2 separate regions of the Homo sapiens genome follow, and region 2 is linked to region 1. The links come from fine-mapping of genetic effects on gene expression. A gene starts in region 1. The other region holds a variant in brackets. All regions are shown on one strand. Distances are from middle to middle. Region 1 holds the start of DNAJB6 (DnaJ heat shock protein family (Hsp40) member B6). Region 2 overlaps DNAJB6 (DnaJ heat shock protein family (Hsp40) member B6).

What was found. PIP is the estimated chance that this variant, and not a neighbour inherited with it, causes the effect. A credible set is the group of variants that fine-mapping cannot tell apart.
Region 2: its variant is the best candidate, but not a certain one, in a credible set for the expression of DNAJB6 in whole blood (INTERVAL, PIP 0.52).

The regions. Positions count from the first base shown.
Region 1 is chr7:157,335,405-157,338,203 of GRCh38, reverse strand. It overlaps DNAJB6 (DnaJ heat shock protein family (Hsp40) member B6), which reads right to left and starts at 1,200. Exons shown (of 10, transcript NM_058246.4): 1 at 1,060-1,200. RefSeq lists enhancers at 1-17, 746-1,249, 1,250-1,752 and silencers at 678-867, 928-1,137, 1,328-1,487.
Region 2 is chr7:157,413,125-157,415,923 of GRCh38, reverse strand. The region is part of intron 9 of DNAJB6 (DnaJ heat shock protein family (Hsp40) member B6); the gene reads right to left. Among named protein-coding and RNA genes, the nearest start is that of DNAJB6, 78 kb to the right of the region's middle. The variant G/A (reference allele first, on the strand shown) is at 1,255.

The DNA of each region.
Region 1 (2,799 bases):
CACGAAGCAGCAGCAATCAAGCTTTAATGGTTAACGTCTGTTTCCTTTCTTCGGTCTTCACTCTAACTTTTCTACTAAATCAATAATTTGGCTTAAATTGTAGCGACAAATCCTTACTAAAATTCGCAACTCAATAAAAACGTTGAAAACTACAAAGAGCGCCGCTCAGCCTACTCTTCCCAAACAGGCTGAAGCCTCCGAGCTCGCAGGCGGCACCCCTTCGGTGGTGGCACGATCGTTCTACTTGCGCTGTTTCCTGCCCCGTTTACGTGAGAAGTTAGCACAGAAGTTTACGTCTGACTAGCAAACCCATCCTTTAAAAAATTCGCTAGTGCCAAAACCTTTCTCGAGCCAATATATGATTTGCAGTTTACACTGCGTGTGTCACTGACCTTCCTTAGGTAAGAGTTAATGTAAACTTCTTATATAAACTTCAGTTGCATCAACTACGGTGCAGATTCTTTAACGCAAAGCAAAGCAGACAAACATTCTGAGTGAGAAAGGCAGCCTGCTCTTCCACAAACTTCTGAACAATCCGTCCGGAGTTCTAGAAACAGGGCTTTGCGGTCCCCCACCTGCTTCTTCTCCCTCCGAACTTGGCGGCACGGCTGCGGCATTCCTGCTCCGCAAGCCACTCCCGTTTCTGGTTTCAGACGCGAGTGCGGGAGCCTTAGAAAAAGAAGGCGCTCCACGCCTCCCACGCTGCCGGCCCCGCCGAGCCCCAGCCGAGCCCCAGCCGGCCGCTCCCAGGCCGGGCCCCACCCCCAACCGCCGCCGCGGAGGCTGGGCCGCGTTCCGGCAAGGACGCCGGGCGGGGAGGACGCGGCCGGGCGGCCCCAGACCCCAGCCCCGGCCCCGGCCCCAGACCTGACCCAGAGGACCCCGCCCACCCTTCGCCCCGCAACCCCGGCCACGGCCCCCGCCCCGTCCAGTCCTTTCCCCGGCCGGCGACCCCGGTCACCCCCCGCGCTGTTGCCAGGCGCCGGGTGAGGTCCGCCGTCTGCCGGGCGCGCGCGGGGCCCTAGGCGACCTCCCCCGACCCTCGGAACAGACCCTCACCGAGGACAGAAGCGGCCGGTGGCGGGACGCAGGGGAGGCAGGGTGACGGCCCGAATCTCCTCACAGCTCCAGGACTGCTGCGCTGGTGGTGGCGGCGGCTCCTCGCGCTTTCCTTTCTCTCCTTTCTCCAACAACAAACAGGAAATGCGTCACGCGGCGGCGGCACGGCGGCGTCAACTTCCGCCCGACCCTGACGCCGCGCATGCGCAGTTTCCACTGCCCATACCGCGGGCCCAACCTCGGGGGCGCCCGCCCCACCTTCGCGAAGGTTCTCGGCTCTTCCGCCGCCCCGAAGAGCCCAGGAGACTGGGGGCGAGGGGGCGGGGAAGCCCAGGGCGAGGGGGCGGAGCTCGGGGCCGGGTCTACGGTACCGGGGAGCCCAGACGCGCGGAAGGCACAGAGAAGGCCGAGAAGATTCCAAATGGCACTTATTGTTGGGCCAGAAGGAGCCCATTCTGGAAACCGCGAAGTCGTCGCGCCCTTCATCTTCCTCTTGACCGGCGGCCCCCGGAGCGCGTCTGCCGCCTCTCGCTCCGCGGTCCTGCGGTGGAGCTGGGTGGCATCTCCGCACAGCGGGACGAAAGCTGGGGCGCGGGCGCGGGCGCGGGCGGAGAAGTCCCCGAAGGAGAAGAAGAACAAACCAAGCGGCGGCCAGCGAAGGCGGGCGAAGGCGCCGGCCCCCGCTTGTCAATTTAGGGAAGCCCGGATACCCTAAGTTCCCCGGCGAACGGGAGCGCGTGGAGACTTCGCCAGGGAATAGTGACTGAAGGAAACGGAAGCAAACTGTGGCAGAAAATACAGATGAAGCTTTTTAGGTTAAATCGTGGCAGTAGTTTTTCTGAAAACGCGGCGCATTTTGATAGCTGGACTTTAGGTCATCCCCAGGCTTCCTAGCCTTTCCCGCGTCCTCAGGGGTTCTGGTTCTAACCCTGGAGACCAACACCACATGCGTGTAGATGGTGACCAGCAGGAGCAGGGAGTCTCAGACCCAGTGCAGTCAGACAGGCTCCCATTCCCAGTAGCGAAAGGGTCCCGCAGACCCAAAGCCTAAGGAGCCAACAAGCAGTTCGTCCATGGAGCCTGGCCTGGATCTCCCACTGTCTTCCTCTCCAGCATTCAGCCAGATGTTTGCTACTGTGTTGTCTTAGTCCTGGCCCACCTTATCCTTTCCTTTAAGAAATAAAAATCTCAACTGGGTGCGGTGGCTCACGCCTGTAATCCCAACACTTTGGGAGGCCAAGGCGGGCGGATCACCTGAGGTTGGGAGTTCGAGACCAGCCTGACACATGGAGAAACCCCGTCTCTACTAAAAATGCAAAAAAAATTAGCCAGGTGTGGTGGTGCATGCCTGTAATCCCATCTACTGCAGAGGCTGAGGCAGAATAATCGCTTGAACCCAGGAGGAGGAGGTTGCAGTGAGCGGAGATCACACCATTGCACTCCAGCCTGGGCAACAAGAGCGAAACTCTGTCTCAAGAAAAAAGAAAAATCCCTTTTTGTTACACCTTTCCTGAACTTCAGATCCTGTGGCATGCTGACACTGAATTCCGGGGGCCTGCTCAGCCACCTTCTGAACTAACAACGCTTATGAATTCGTGATCGTTTAAGCCTGGGAGATATTCAAGTAAAAGGCACTTTAACACTTGAATCACTTTTGGTTTAAAATAGCTCGTTAGTAATGAAAGAGTTGGAGAAATGCCACCCTGAATTATGCCATATTAGGATACTGATTACTAACTA
Region 2 (2,799 bases), 78 kb before region 1:
GAACAAAAAGCAACAAAATGAAGTCATCTATCTTGGCCACAGCTAAACCTCAAAACGGGCGCTTTCCAAGGTGCACGTTGAGAACTGCTCACACTACCCAGAGAGCTTCACCACCCTGCAGAGAAGTGAGGACTCCCACCTACCCGAGTTCCGCCCAGCGGCAGAGCTAAAAGCCCACCCTGGGACTACCCCAGTTCTGCCCAGCGGCAGAGCTAGAAGCCCACCCTGGGCACGGCTGCACCTCAGTCCTGGAACCCCACCCTGGGACCTACCCCAGTTCCGCCCAGCGGCAGAGCTAGAAGCCCACCCTGGACACGGCTGCACCTCAGTCCCGGAACCCCACCCTGGGCTCTCCTTCAGAACGCACACTGGGCCTGCGCAAAGGTGTGCCCACCTGTGGGGAGGGTGTCCACAGGTGTCTCCTCCGCTTCCCCCGCTGGCCACAGTGCAGCCTTTCTGCAGGCAAAGCCTTGGTGTGGACTGGCCTCATGTTTGCCAGCTCTGTGCCATCCAGCGTGAGAAAGTCCCATTTCTTATTGAGGAAAGTCTTTCATTTCCCTGTTGCTAAAGTCAATGGCTGACACTGACTGATCCAGCTGAAGTGCATGGAGAAAGACGCCCACCCTCTGAACGTCTGATCCAACGTGCCAGAAATAAACACCTCTGGATTCATTTCTGCAGAAACTGTCTTGAACTCAGTGTGTGCCAACGTGGGTGCAGGAAACAGGCCCGATGTTGAATTTGGCCACAATTGTCAACATGACTGGGCAGAGGGAACATGGCCGGCAGCAGGCAGGGCAGGCCTGGGTCCCACACGCACAGGCCCTCAACCTGCCAGAACTCTCCAAAGACCCACACAACTTCACATGGTGGCATCGTGCCTCACAGGAAGGTGCCTGCTCACAGCCCTCTTGGGGGCCTGAGGCCCTGCCCACACTCAGGACTCGCCCCAGAGAATCACAATCATGGTAGGCCGGGTGCCAGGCTCCAATCAGATGCATTCCACACCCAGCTGACGGCCGCCACGCTGACCAACATGTCACAGGTGCAAGTCCACTGAGTGTGGCTCACACATGTCCTGGACCACAGTGGGGCAAACACATGTGGACTTTCAAATGTGCTGTGGCTCTCACCACTGAGCACTGCCTGGACCCCGACAGCTCTCCACGAGAGAGGGACAAGCCTGCAGATCCAGTCCACACCCCACCCACAACCACACCACACCACACTCGCCTGTGACCCGTGCACAGTGGA[G/A]GCTGCCACCTTCCTCGCCAGAGGAGCGCGTCCTAACCGCCCTACAGGAGCAGCACGAGATGCGCGTTCAGAACCGCCAAGCGTTCCATGCTGCATATTTAGGAAATGTGCCTCAAGCTACGGTTACGGAAAGAAAGAACGAACAGAGAGAGGCCTGTGTGCCGTTGGCGGCTGCAGAGGCCGCTGAGTACCTGCTTCCAAAGCAGGGAGGCGGCTCTGCGGAAAACGCAGAGGAAAGGAAGCGGGAGGAAGCCAGGAGATCTCCGTCCCGAGGAGCATGCGGGGAGCCGCCGTGACTGTGGAGGGCGGCCAGGGCAGAGCCAGCTCTTGGAGGCCGTGTCCCTCAGAGGAGCCTCGTGCCCCGGGACCCAAGGGACCCCGTGGGATGGGGGCGGGGTGGGGGGGTCAGCACCGCCTGCGGTTCCTCCGCTTCAGCAAAGCAAACTTTACCAAGACCCCAGAACAAAGGGAGTAACGGAGCTCCTTTAAAGCAACTGCTGCCACTGGGCCTTTATGAGCTAGGGACGGAAAGCCTGAGGTGACCACACTGCAGTCGCCCTCACCCGCCCTGGGGCTGCCGGGATGGTGGGGGAGGGGCGGGTCCGGTACAAGGAAACCACTTTCCGGTGTTCTTCAAGCCTCCACTATTGCCGGGCGCGGTGGCTCCCGCCTGTAATCCCAGCACTTTGGGAGGCTGAAGCGGGGGGATCACCTGAGGTCAGGAGTTCGAGAGCAGCCAGTCCAACATGGAGAAACCACATCTCTACTAAAAATACAAAAATGAGCCAGAAGTGGTGGCAAGCACCTGTAGTTCCGGCCACTGGGGAGGTGAGGCAGGAAAATCGCTGGAACCCTTGAGGCAGAGGTTGCAGTGAGCCGAGATCACGCCACTGCACTCCAGCCTGGGCGACAGAGCGAGACTGTCTCAAAAAAAAAAAAAAAAAAAAAAAAGTCCAAAATTGAAGTGAGAAAAACAGAGCAGGCCTTCCTGTCACCTGAACCTCCTGCAAATCACAGACATGGCCTTGGGCACCGGCTCGCGGGCTCTGGGACTTCGTGGGACCGCCAGCCTTGGGCACAGTCCACAGAGGCACGCTCTCCCACCAGTGACTACTTAAAAACTTGTCCTGATAGAAAACGACTTAAGTTTTCTTATCAAGTTTAAGGACTTGAAAACCCTTAAGTATAAATACACAAATTAGTTTCATTAAAAAGACAAACTTCGAGCTGTTGAAAGCTGAGGGCAGGGTTAGATTCCCATCTTCAGTTCCGAGAGCTCCATGCTGTGCTTCACAAAAAGGGAGACATTCTACAGCGTTCCAGGGCAGGCTGCTTTCCTCAGCCAAAAAAACAAAGGACCTGCTTTATTCTTTCTTTCCTGTTCAGTAATTTTACTTTTCCTTTTTTAACAGTTACGTGTTCTTGATACTCCTACAGTATGTGTGGAATTCACAAACACAAAACATCACTCGGCCTTTCCAAAGCCTGAGTGAGGATCCGGTGGGTTCCCGGTGGTGCCTCTGTCCTCTGAACGCAGGCAGGGCG